4 linked regions of the Homo sapiens genome follow. The protein of the gene in region 2 purifies or fractionates together with the protein of the main gene of each other region. This does not show direct contact. Each region holds a gene or a part of one and is shown on either strand. Other genes may lie near its edges.

What was found.
Region 1: the proteins of HNRNPH1 (region 2) and HNRNPU purify together in Homo sapiens (affinity purification with mass spectrometry; 4 studies listed by BioGRID and IntAct, with this or other methods). This does not show direct contact.
Region 3: the proteins of HNRNPH1 (region 2) and ILF2 fractionate together in Homo sapiens (co-fractionation; 3 studies listed by BioGRID and IntAct, with this or other methods). This does not show direct contact.
Region 4: the proteins of HNRNPH1 (region 2) and COPRS purify together in Homo sapiens (co-immunoprecipitation; 3 studies listed by BioGRID and IntAct, with this or other methods). This does not show direct contact.

The regions. Positions count from the first base shown.
Region 1 is NC_000001.11:244,854,544-244,858,043, forward strand, and holds part of HNRNPU (heterogeneous nuclear ribonucleoprotein U), read right to left. Parts: coding exon 3,468-3,500; intron 3,175-3,467; coding exon 3,055-3,174; intron 2,314-3,054; coding exon 2,185-2,313; intron 2,083-2,184; coding exon 1,914-2,082; intron 1,616-1,913; coding exon 1,361-1,615; intron 1,066-1,360; coding exon 881-1,065; intron 502-880; coding exon 430-501; intron 1-429. UniProt on the Homo sapiens protein: DNA- and RNA-binding protein involved in several cellular processes such as nuclear chromatin organization, telomere-length regulation, transcription, mRNA alternative splicing and stability, Xist-mediated transcriptional silencing and mitotic cell progression.
Region 2 is NC_000005.10:179,617,175-179,620,671, reverse strand, and holds part of HNRNPH1 (heterogeneous nuclear ribonucleoprotein H), read left to right. Parts: intron 1-1,264; coding exon 1,265-1,403; intron 1,404-2,348; coding exon 2,349-2,527; intron 2,528-2,611; coding exon 2,612-2,683; intron 2,684-2,739; coding exon 2,740-2,873; intron 2,874-3,022; coding exon 3,023-3,158; intron 3,159-3,497. UniProt on the Homo sapiens protein: This protein is a component of the heterogeneous nuclear ribonucleoprotein (hnRNP) complexes which provide the substrate for the processing events that pre-mRNAs undergo before becoming functional, translatable mRNAs in the cytoplasm.
Region 3 is NC_000001.11:153,664,641-153,667,993, forward strand, and holds part of ILF2 (interleukin enhancer-binding factor 2), read right to left. Parts: intron 3,018-3,353; coding exon 2,915-3,017; intron 1,089-2,914; coding exon 1,023-1,088; intron 697-1,022; coding exon 580-696; intron 1-579. UniProt on the Homo sapiens protein: Chromatin-interacting protein that forms a stable heterodimer with interleukin enhancer-binding factor 3/ILF3 and plays a role in several biological processes including transcription, innate immunity or cell growth.
Region 4 is NC_000017.11:31,853,808-31,856,244, forward strand, and holds part of COPRS (coordinator of PRMT5 and differentiation stimulator), read right to left. Parts: intron 1-2,437. UniProt on the Homo sapiens protein: Histone-binding protein required for histone H4 methyltransferase activity of PRMT5.

The sequences.
Region 1 (3,500 bases), on a different chromosome or scaffold from region 2:
AAGCCACTCAAACTGTTTTTAGGAAATGACAATGAATCTAATTCAGAGTAATTTGCTGGAAACAAATTTATACCTGTCATACCTCTGATTTCTACCAAACCAGATTTAGTTTTAATATCCCATAATTATCAATACACATTACAAAACGAAACATCATGACTTTGTTAGTTTACACAATTAAAGCTAGCAGTAAAAGAACTGTATATATTAAATAATATTACTTTATTAAAAAAATTTAACTTATAGCAATCTTCAACCTATTTTGCCTTCAAAAGGTAGATTATGGCTACTACTGCAAGACGATTCACACTTTACCCTATTAACACTTATAAACACTTCAATCCCTGAACAAGATCTTTTTCAAGACTGATAAATCTTAGGAACTCAAAATACAATTAATGTACATAAAGCACATAAGAAATTACTTACACCCTGCTGCCACTGGTTGTAGCCCTGAGATTGATTTTTGTAGCCACGATTGTTTCCTCGTCCTCTGAAGTTCTACAAAAAGGAAATACTCTCTAAGAGCTCTGAGCCCAATTGCTTGTTAGGTTTGTGGGGGTGAGAGAGAGGAGCAGAAATGGACAGGTTGCTAGCCCCTAATCTTAGGTAGCAAGCAATACACAAATTCTGGATACCCTCTGCTGGTTTCTTATGTTTTAATTTTTTATTCATTATGAGAAATGCATCTGACTTGTTTAGTACACCTGAAAAAACTCAAAAGTAAGTAGACTCATTTCACCATTACTAGTTCAATTTTCCTTATGTCAATGCCTATCATGTTCCTTACGGATTACTAAGACACCCCAACATAAAGCTCACACCTTTCCAGACTAAGCTACAGTTATCAATCATGCTTCCAGGGATCTTGAATCATTACCTGGTTGTAGTTCCCTCTGTTGGGCATTCCACCTCTGTTGTAGTTCCCTCTGTTTGAGTAACTACCACGGCCAGGAAAAACAGGGGCACGAGGGTATGGATAGCCGATTCCACCACTTCCTCCACCGCCACCACCTCTCTGTGGCATGTTGCCCCTCCTATTATATCCGCCACGATTCCCAGGGGCTAAAAGACAAGAGCTGTTTTAGTTTCATTGTATATTGTACCCTACTTATACAGAAGACTTAGGATTCCTCTAGATTGTTCCTTTTTCTCCAAAAATAATTGTTTAAAGACAAAAGAAATGTTTAATTCTAACCATTAACATAACCTAGGTGTATTTAATATCAAATCACATGAATACTTTAGTTACTGTGACAGTATACCATTAATGAGGAAGAAACTTCAGCTACATCCAAACTATAAAATTATCACTTGTTTCGATCCTGAACTAAATACAGAACACTCAAAATTAACTTGCCTCCTCCTCTGAAATTTCCACCACGCATATTGAATCCTCCACGTCCTCTATGGCCACCACCTCTGTTAAACTGGTTCTTGCCACTCTTATTTTTATTGCTTTTCTTTGAGCCAGTGTTCTGTTTCTTTTCTGGTGGAAGAGCCTTTTTGCTTTCTTCCTTATATTGCTCCAAGAGTTTTTGGGCTTCTTCCTTCTGAAGTTCAACATAGGTTATTTCATCAAAGCACTCAGCTACCTCTGGGAGGGTAAAGTTTCCTGCAGGAAACAAAGTCATATTATTAATTTAGAAACCCACCACGAATCCTCACAATCCTAAAGCTGACAATTCTTGAGGTTTAGTAACATATTTTCCTAAAAATAAAAACAGACCAAACATATATGCATATGTAACAACTGCAATTTTAATTCCTGAAGCAGTATTGCTGGAAAAAATGTTAACTTTCAGGAGGCCTAAGTCCTAATAGATTTAACATAGTTACACAAGCAGAATATGTAGGAAAAACATTCTTTTAAAAAGAAGATTTCACACAGTAACAGAATTAAAATTCCATGCCTTTCATTTTGAGGACCGCATGTTCTGGTAGGTCTTTCCCCTCTACTTCTGCTTTCTTCTGTGTTCTTTGCTTATAGTCTTCATCTTTTGGGCAAACTACAACAGCTTTTCGCTGGAAGCCTGCAAACAGGCACATTTTTCTCCTCTGGGCAGCAGCAGACACATTTGTCTTTAAAAAAAGAAATTTATGTTTACAACCCTAAACATTAATTCTACACCAATCTATCTAAATTATCAGTTAATATTTTTCAATTTCAAAGCTACAGCGTACCTGATCCAGAATAAAATTTCGCTTCTTTCGGGCAGCAATCTCAATAAATTTCCCAAGACACTGGGGGGCTCTCTGCAACAGTGTGTTCAGTTTTCCAGTATCTGCCATTTGCTTCTTAAAACCTGCCACCTATATTCAAAAGTTAAAATTTCCCCTTGAACTTGTGAATTTTAATAAGTTATGCTTTTTAAAATTCAACTCATATCTATATGTAAAGCAGGCAACATTTTATAATTTAAATATTACCTTTGTCCATTATTGCTACAAAAACAGGGTCACTTAAACTATGTAACAAGACCTTACACTTACTCAATTCTTTTTAGCTGCTAGATGTTAAGAGCTCAAAAACACTACGGAAAAAAACAGAAGCCTAGCCAGTGGAAGGCAGTTTACCCTCAGAGTTGAAAGAACCAACTTAATCTTGCCTTTCCTCCCATCTCTTTAAGATACTAACAAAATGGATAGAGACAAAGACAAAAAGTTTACCTAGAATACCTCCCGGTCTATAATTTTTCTTTTCTTTTTTTTTTTTTTCTGAGACGGAGTGTTGCTCTGTCGCCCAGACTGGAGTACAATGGCACGATCTCAACTCACTGCAACCTCTGCCTCCCAGGTTCAAGTAATTGTCCCTGCCTCAACCTCCCGAGCAGCTGGGATTACAGGAACCCACTACCACACCCAGCTAATTTTTAAATTTTTAGTAGGAACGGGGCTTCGCCATGTTGGCCAGGTGGGTCTCAAACTCCTGACCTCAGGTGATCCATCCACCTCAGCCTCTCAAAATGCTGAGATTACAGGCGTGAACCACCATGCCCAGCCTCTCCCAGTCTATTTTAAACACTGAGATCAGGCCCTAAACATTTTACTTACCATCATCTTATCCATAATAGTATTTGTGCCAAGAATGTTATATTTCCCTGGATTTTCTGCTGCATGTTTAGTAACCCAGGTAGTTTTTCCAGCTCCTGGCAAGCCAATCATCATCACAACCTAGTGAAAAGAAAAGAAATGTCATTTCACTGTCAGTAGACACCACCTAATAATTCTTTAAATATTGTTAAGGCCAATTTAAATATCTAAGTTTTCATAGCCCTTACACTAACGGACAAAAATTTGTTTATGGAAAGATTAACAGTCAACATAAGGGGGAAACAATTACTTAAGAGCAATATGCACAGCACAAAGTAAATGAAACAGACTAATCATCTAGTTCTTCTAAATGTCATTTTGTGCCAGGCAAGCAATATTCAAATGCCACAGTTAAAAAAAAAAAAATCCCTTACTTCACAATCTTTCTTCTCTTCAGGCCCCTTTGG
Region 2 (3,497 bases):
GTTCAGAGTAGATCTTTCATTGAGGATTGCCCTCAACAGCTTAACTACTTTCCTCACATTGGTGTCCAGCTAAGTACCTCAAGTTAAAGGTAAGATCCCTTTACCAGCAGATCATCAGTGCGATGAATTAGGTTGTTGTAAATTATGGCAAGTGTCTGTGTTGCAAGAGACACGTATTTGGGTCATGTGACCAGAAGCATCTAATGGTCTAATTCTCTTTAATGCAAAAGTCGGTTTATGAAAGACTTGGTTTAACCTGTGTGGTATAAACTTACTGAAAATCAGATGTAGTGAGAGTAGTTTGAATGCTTGTAGTCTCAGTATCTGAAATAAGTGTTTTGAAATTGTTCCTGGGCCTAAAGTATTTGAATGTTTTTATGCTGAAGAGCTGATAAGATTGCATGTTTAACAATGTTAGATAAGATATCGTATATTTTAAGTATTAATATTTATGATGTGATACGCTGGAAGCAGGAAATCCTTTCATGGTTTAGTGTAGTATGTTAAAAATTGATATATGTATCGAGTCCTAATGTCAGAATTTTTAAAATCAAGTCTGTTTTGTTTTGACACTAAATTGGTGAGAATTGAATGCTGTCAACGTTAAATATGAACATAATTTCATATCTTCTAGGAAAGTGCTTTAAGTCCTTTTTGTAAGCTTGGGAATGTATCCACGGAAAGGATTTTTCATAGACGGAATTTCCAGAAGTGAATCATAACTACTGTTAGAGCATAAGCATGCATGATTGTGCTGTGTAGATCAGTTTTGTTGAAAGTTTAGATTGTTGTGTTTGTCAATTATAATTTAATGTTTCAGTTTTTATATGAAATGTTGTAAATGTATACCTTTTTAAAAACTTGAAGTTCCAATAACTTAAAGCATTGAAATATAAAATGAGGTAAAAGGTGTTTTGAATTTAGTAAAACTGTTATTTAATGCTTAAAACTTAATTGAATTGTATAATTCTCAACATTAAGTTGCATAGATATGTGTTCTTAAGTTGTTGAATTCTTAATGCATCCTGTGTTCAGCAAGTTTTTTTTAATATATACTGTACCATGGGTGTGTTAAGAATAGTTATACTTTATAATAATGGAACTTCATATTATTGCAATGCATATTTAAAGAGTACTTGTTGAAAGCATACCATTCACCTAAAGTTAAAAATTCTGGTTTATTTAAAGCTATAAGAAGAATCATTTCTGGGCTTGTGATGTTAATATTGCCCCCCTACTGGGGTTATTTGTCCTTGGGTTGAAGGGTTGGAAATCGTGCCAAATGGGATAACATTGCCGGTGGACTTCCAGGGGAGGAGTACGGGGGAGGCCTTCGTGCAGTTTGCTTCACAGGAAATAGCTGAAAAGGCTCTAAAGAAACACAAGGAAAGAATAGGGCACAGGTGGGGATGGATGGTTGGTTGGATATGTCACTTTTCTTATGGTAAACAATTAAATCCATATTCTCTCTGCTTAAAAGAAGAAATTAATGTTTTGTAGTCCTAGGTAATTGATGTTTTGCCATGATTTCCAAACTTGTGTCAGTCCCACGTTACACGCAAACTAAATTTTAGGTTTGAAATTTGTCCCTAGTTAATTGGTCTGCTTGACAATTTTGTGAGTCTTATTAACCCCAATCAATAGAGTTGAGAGACTATGGCTTTAAAAAATTAATGCAAACCTGGCTTTAGCTGTAATAACACCCACCTAGAATAAATTAATATTACCATAAGAAAATGTGATACTTTCTGATCTTGTTTTTAAAGTTGAAATGCAACAAACTTTTTCTTGCTGTATATAAATATTCTGCATAGTATTAATAAGCATAGCTTTCAAGAAATTGTCACAAAAGGTTTTATTCTCTTTGCTTGTGACTATTTTTCATTGAAGCATGCGCTTACCTATGCTGATTCTTACTAAAAGCATAGGCTGGGGTATTTATTGGCGAAAGGAAATGTGTAGTGTGGGCTGGACTGTTGGTGGAGGCTGGCTTTTTAGCCCACTTGCTATACATGCTGCCAATGGATTTAAGACTTGAAATGTTGAAAGTTGAGTGGAATTATTTCCCTCCTAAAACATTTATTTACAGTACTCCTCTCTACCCCTAAGGTTGGGCTCTGCCTCAGAGGAGTGAGTTTTTTTTTTTTTTCTATAAAGTTTACATTGTCTTACTATTTATTGAGTGAATTTCTGGTCATTGCCTATGCAAATATAAGAAATCTGGCTTTAAATATTAGTCAGTTTCATGGCTATGACTAGATTGTTTTCTTGTATAACTAAATACCTGTATAAAATGAACTAATGTTTTCTCTCCCCTCCCTACCCCTTCCTTATGAACAATGCTTTAGGTATATTGAAATCTTTAAGAGCAGTAGAGCTGAAGTTAGAACTCATTATGATCCACCACGAAAGCTTATGGCCATGCAGCGGCCAGGTCCTTATGACAGACCTGGGGCTGGTAGAGGGTATAACAGCATTGGCAGAGGAGCTGGCTTTGAGAGGATGAGGCGTGGTGCTTATGGTGGAGGTACGTGAGGATTCGTAAGGTTCGGCAAGTCGTCTGTTCCTTTGTCTAGGTGTTTTATTTGATTGATTGTACTTTGTCTTTCAGGCTATGGAGGCTATGATGATTACAATGGCTATAATGATGGCTATGGATTTGGGTCAGATAGATTTGGAAGAGGTAAGGTAAGAATTGAATTTCTCAGTTGAAGGATGCTTACACTCTTGTCCATCTAGACCTCAATTACTGTTTTTCAGGAATGTCTGATCACAGATACGGGGATGGTGGCTCTACTTTCCAGAGCACAACAGGACACTGTGTACACATGCGGGGATTACCTTACAGAGCTACTGAGAATGACATTTATAATGTAAGTGTGAGATGAACTCACAAGTCAATATTTCAGTATGGCAGTAAGTCAGCCTTATTCTATAAATGTGAGCACTATGTTAGAAATTTTAGGTTTTTTTTGTAACGTTAGAAAGTTGGTTGAATTCTTTGAAATGCCTTGTGTTGTAGTTTTTTTCACCGCTCAACCCTGTGAGAGTACACATTGAAATTGGTCCTGATGGCAGAGTAACTGGTGAAGCAGATGTCGAGTTCGCAACTCATGAAGATGCTGTGGCAGCTATGTCAAAAGACAAAGCAAATATGCGTAAGTGTGATTGAGCATTTGTGGGCTCTTAACAGGTGATTGTGTGACTAACATTTACAATAGAGAAATGGAAAAATAAGGATATATGAGAAGTTTCCTCTCCAGTAATAGATTAATTCTTGGGGGATGCGGGGGCAGTGTGTTGAAGGTTTGGGTTTTAAAAATTAGTATAACGGATTTGTGATATGCACATCTTGAAGTGTATATCCTTAATTGACAATACAGATGAATATGTAAAGGCTAGATTTTGGAGTTAAAGTAGATCACCTAAGAGAAGTAGCTAGAATTTCTTTGCCAAAGTATTTGAAGTTCACAGATCTGCTTGTTTAAAAACTTTAT
Region 3 (3,353 bases), on a different chromosome or scaffold from region 2:
CCTCCGCCTCCCGGGTTCGAGCAATTCTCCTGCCTCAGCCTCCTGAGTAGCTGGGATTACAGGTAACCGCCATCATGCCCCACTAATTTTTTATTTTAGTAGAGACGGGGTTTCATCATGTTGGCCAGGATGGTCTCCAACTCCTGACCTCAGGTGATCTGCCTGCCTCAGCCTCCCAAAGTGCTGGGATTACAGGCGTGAGCCACCGCACCCGACCAACTCTGCAATTCTTTAAGCCACCCTGTGTTTCTCATATCAGCAAATCACTTGTCTAAAAATCACTAGAAACATGCAAGATCTGTTTTCTTCAAAAGCCTATCCCCCTCCATAAATATTTTCTCAGTCCTTTTTAAGTCCTCCAAATGCTTTCTTGGTCACCCCATCTGAAAATTCCACTAGCAAGCTGATAAACTATTTCCAAATTACAGAGGGAGAGAGCAAAGTTCAGAATAAACCTAAGTTCTTCAATTCCCAGGAAGCTGCATGTGGAATAGCAACAAGCTAAGTAAACTAAACAGCAACAATACCATGTTTTGAATATCCCCTAAATTTTCCAGCAATGGAAAAAAAAGAACTAACAATGGAGTTCTGGATCCAGTTTTCGAAGATTGGGTGGCACTGTTGTAATGAGAATCTTCACTGTAGCATCAGAAGAACTGATTTCAAAGCCAGTTTCGTTGGTCAGCATGGTTAAAACTGAAAAAACAGAATAAACAAAAACTATAACTCACATTTCCATTAGATGATCAAAGTTAAATCCAGGGTGGGGGGGAACAGGTGGATTTTTTAAAACAGCACAAAGTCCAGAATGAGAATTTAGAATACAGAGCTTTAGAAGGGAGATCAAACAGATCTCCCTTGAACACCTTGAACACCTGAAGCCCCTGCCAAAAACTCCCACAACATAAAACTCTGCATTTACTCTTCCATCTGGTCTGATCTGATTTTGTTGAAAGTGTACTTACAATTACAAGACCTGGTTCCTATGGCTACTAAATACAGAATCAGCAACAAATGCAAACCTTCAGAAGGATCCTGTGCTCTTAGGCTTTCCACGACTTTGTTCCCCAGGGCAGCAACAGCTTCCACTAATTGACAGAAAATGACATAATGTTATAATAATTTATTTGCCTAGACTTTCTATGTATCTCTAAGCTACTTTGCACTCTCATTTCTGTCCCATATCCAAGGCTGAAGCAAGGGTAAGTAATAGAATATATACTTTTATAAGAGAAAGCCAAGGCCTGGGCAGAAAAATTGGAAGACTCAGGGAACAGGACCCCTCCTGTACTCATATCCTCTTTCTACAGCAGGGTTTTTCAGGTCAGTGGCAGTTAATAACATTTTGGGCTAGACAAATCTTTGGGGTGATGGGGATGTAGGATGTTTAACAGCATCCACGGCCTCTATCCTTTTTCTTTTTTTGAGAAAGGGTCTCACTCTTGTCACCCAGGCTGCAGTGCAGTGGCACAATCACAGCTCACTGCAGCCTCAGCCTCCCGGGCTCAAGCAATCCTCTCACCTCAGGCTGCTGCTTTTTTTTTCTTTTTTTCTTATTTTTGAGACAGGGCCTCACTCTGTCACCCAAGCTGAAGTGCACTGGCACGATCTCTGCTAACTCCAACCTCTGCCTCCCAGGTTCAAGCAACTCTCCTGCCTCAGCCTCCCAAGTAGTGGGGATTACAGACGCCCACCACCACGCCTGGCTAATTTTTATATTTTTGGTAGAGACTGGGTTTTGCCACGTTGGCCAGGCTGGTCTTGAACTCCAGGCCTTGGCCTCCCTAAGTGTTGGGATTACAGGCGTGAGCCACTGCACCCGGCCCCACCTCAGGCTTCTGAGTAGCTGGGACCAAAGCATGCACCACCATGCCCAGCTAATTTTTTTCTTTTTGTAGGTACAGGATCTCTCTATGTTATACAGGCTGGTCAAACTCCTGGGGTCAAGTGATCCTCTTGCCTCAGCCTCCCAAAGTGCTGGGAATACAGCCACCACACCTGGCTTCTACCCTTTTTTGATGCCAGTAGCACCCCCTTGTTTTAACAATCAAAAGTACCGCCAGATACTGCCAGATATCCCCTGGGTGGCAAAATTACCTCCAGTTGAGAAACATGGCCGTACAGTAACCTGCTATACATTCTTTCAGACACACACACTCCAGCGTTTGTCCCTTATCACTCATTAAAAAACATTTGTCAGGCAGGGTGCAGTGGCTCACGCCTGTAATCCCAACACTTTGGGAGGCCAAGGCGGGCGGATCACCTGAGGTCAGGAGTTTGAGACCAGACTAGCTAACATGGTGAAACCCCGTCTCTACTAAAAATAGAAAAATTAGCCTGGCATGGTGGCACTTGCCTGTAATCCCAGCTACTTGGGAGGCCAAGGCAGGAAAACAGCTAGAACCCAGGAGGTGGAGGTTGCAGTGAACCGAGATCACGCCATTACACTCCAGCCAGGGCAACAGAGTGAGATCCGTCTCAAAAACAAAAACTAGAAACATTTGTCTTACAAACATCCTTTCTCACAAGAAATTTGAGCTTTCAAGATCCGTAAGGGCTGGGCACAGTGGCTCACGCCTGTAATCCCAGCACTTTGGGAGGCTGAGGTGGGCAGATTGCTTGAGCTCAGGAGTTTGAGACCAGCCCGAGCAACACGGTGAAACCCTGTATCTACAAAAAATACAAAAATTAGCTGGGTGTGGTAGCACACATCTGTAGTCCCAGCTACTCGGGAGGCTAAGGCGGGAAGATCACTTGCTGTAGTGGAGGTCAAGGCTGCAGTGAGCTACAATGGTACCACTGCACTCCAGCCTGGCCAACGGAGGGAGAATTTGTCTCAAAACAAAAAAAGATACCTAAACCCCTAATCCAAGTGCTATGTTCTGTTCCCATGACCAGAAACAGGCACACTCACACGTTGGCAGAATCTTGAGTATCACCACCAGGTCAGCCACATTGTGTCCTGTAGTCATTGTCCCCTTTTTATAGGATCCCACCTGTCGAACTTCTTCAATTTGCTGTTGGAAAAAGGATTTCGGGGAAAAACAATTTAGAAGAAAAAAAGGTGCCTAGGTCCTCCCAGAACTGTTACAACACAGCTACCTGTTACCCAAATTAAGAAGTAGCAGAGGTGAAATCACCCCCAAAACCACCACATGAAAGCCTGATACATCACAGCTAGCATAACAATGATACAAGTCTTGTCCCCAAGATCAGTACTACAAAGAAATTCCACTGTACTTTCTCATTTTAGGCTTGGCTTTGGATAATAGACAACTGAAAATTAAAAGTCAAGAGCCAAGGCAATTTCCACACTACCAAAGCTGCCCTTTCCTAAAACTAAATCATCAAAA
Region 4 (2,437 bases), on a different chromosome or scaffold from region 2:
TGCCTCCCTCTGACATCAGGGAGGCCGGAAGGTACATTTTCAAAAGGCCTCACAATAACGGAGGAAAGACTGGGGAAAGATAATGGATTTCCGAGCACATAGTGCTTTGGTGATGCCAGGTCCCAGGAGAGAAGGCAATCAGCCTAAAACAGCCATGCTCTTAATACTGGAACAACAGTAACAGTGATAAGCAATAAAGTGATAGTTCAGAGCAAGGGGTCTAAAGCCAGACTGTCTGATTTCAAATCCGTGTTTTGTCAATTACCAAACATCGGACTGGGCCGGGCACGGTAGCTCACCCTTGTAAACCTAGCACTTTGGGAGGCCAAGGTGGGTGGACTGCTTGAGCTCAGGAGTTCAAGGCCAGCCTGAACAATGTCGCAAACCCTGTCTCTACAAAAAATTCAAAAAATTTAGCTGGGTGCAGTGGCATGCACCTGTAATCCCAGCTACTCAAGAGGCTGAGGTGGGAGGATCGCTTGAACCTGGGAGGTGGAGGCTGCAGTGAGCCAAGATCGTGCCATTGCACAGAGTGAGACCCTGTCTCCAAAAAAAAAAAAAAAAAAAAAAAAAAAAGTGTGATTGAGCTGAAATTTACTTAACTAGTTCCATAACATAAATATAGAATTACCATATGACCCAGCAATCCCAGTCCTAAACATATACCCAAAAGAACTGAAAACAGCTGTTCAAATAAAACAAGGATACTCACAGCAGCACTATTTACAATCACCAAAAGGTAGACACAACATCAAATGTCCATCAATGGATGAATGGAAAAACAAAATGTGGTATATGCATATGATGGAATTATTCAGCCATAAAAAGGAATGCAGTGCTGATACATGCTACGGCATGGATGCACCTTGAAAATACGCTAAGTGGAAGAAGCCAGACACAAAAGGCCACATATTGTTATGATTCCCTTTACAGGCAACTCACATTTGCCTATCCAGAACAGATAAACCCACAGAGACAGAAAGCAAATTAGTGGTTGCCAAGAGCTCAGAGAAGGAAGGAATGGAGAATGACTACTTGGTGAGCACAGGGTTTCCTTTTAGGGTGATGAAAAGATTCTGGAACTAGGTAGTGGTGATGGTTGCACAACACTGCCATTGTGCTAAAAGGCTACTGAATTATATGCGTTAAAATGGTTACATGGTAAATTTAGGTTATGCATCTTTTACCACAATTTTTAAATTGTTTTTATTTAACTGTTCTGTGCCTCAACTTCCACATCTGTAAAATGAAGATAGGGTTGTTGTGAGAGTTAAAAGAAAAAAAAAGGCCAGGCACGGTGGCTCATGCCTGTAATCCCAGCACTTTGGGAGGCCGAGGTGGGCGGATCACCTGAGGTCAGGAGTTTGAGACCAGCCTGGCCAACATGGTGAAAGCCCCTCTCCACTAAAAATACAAAAATTAGGCCGGGAGCAGTGGCTCACGCCTGTAATCCCAGCACTTTGGGTGGCCAAGGAGGGCAGATCACGAGGTCAGGAGATCGAGACCATCCTAACAAGGTAAAATCCTATCTCTACTAAAAACACAAAAAATTAGCCAGGCGTGGTGGCGGGTGCCTGTGGTCCCAGCTACTCGGGAGGCTGAGGCAGGAGAATGGTGTGAACCCAGGGGGCAGAGTTTGCAGTGAGCCGAGATAGTGCCACTGCCTGGGAGACAGAGCGAGACTCCGTCTCAAAAAATAAATAAATAAATAAATAAATAAATACAAAAATTAGCCAGGCGATATGGTGCACGCCTGTAATCCCAGCTACTCAGGAGGCTGAGGCACGAGAATCACTTGAACCCGGGAGACAGAGGTTGCAGTGAGCCAAGATTGCGACACTGCACTCCAGCCTGGGTGACAGAGTGAGACTCCATCTCAAAAAAAAAAAAGAAAAAGAAAAAAAGGGGCCAAGCGTGGTAGCTCACACCTGTAATCCCAGCACTCTGAGAGGCTGAGGCAGATGGATCAGGTGAGGTCAGGAGTTCGAGACCAGCCTGGCTAACATGGTGAAACCCCATCTCTACTAAAAATACAAAAATTAGCTGGGCATGGTGGCATATGCCTGTAATCCAGCTACTTGGGAGGCTGAGGTAGGAGAATGCTTGAATCCAGGAGGCAGAGGTTGCAGTGAGCCAAGATTGTGCCATTGCACTCCAGCCTGGGCAACAAGAGCAAAACTCCCTCTCAAAAAAAAAAAAAAACGGCAGGGGGCTGGGCACAGTGGCTCATGCCTTTGTAATCCCAGCACTTTGGGAGCGTGGGCTCACAGTAATCCCAGCACTTTGGGAGGCCTAGGTGGGCAGATCACTTGAGATCAGGAGTTCGAGACCAGCCTGGCCAACATAGTAAAACCCCATAGCTACTAAAAATACAAAAGTTAGCTGGGTGTGGTGGCGCGTGCCTGTAGTTCCAGCTACTCGGGAGGCTGAGGCAGGA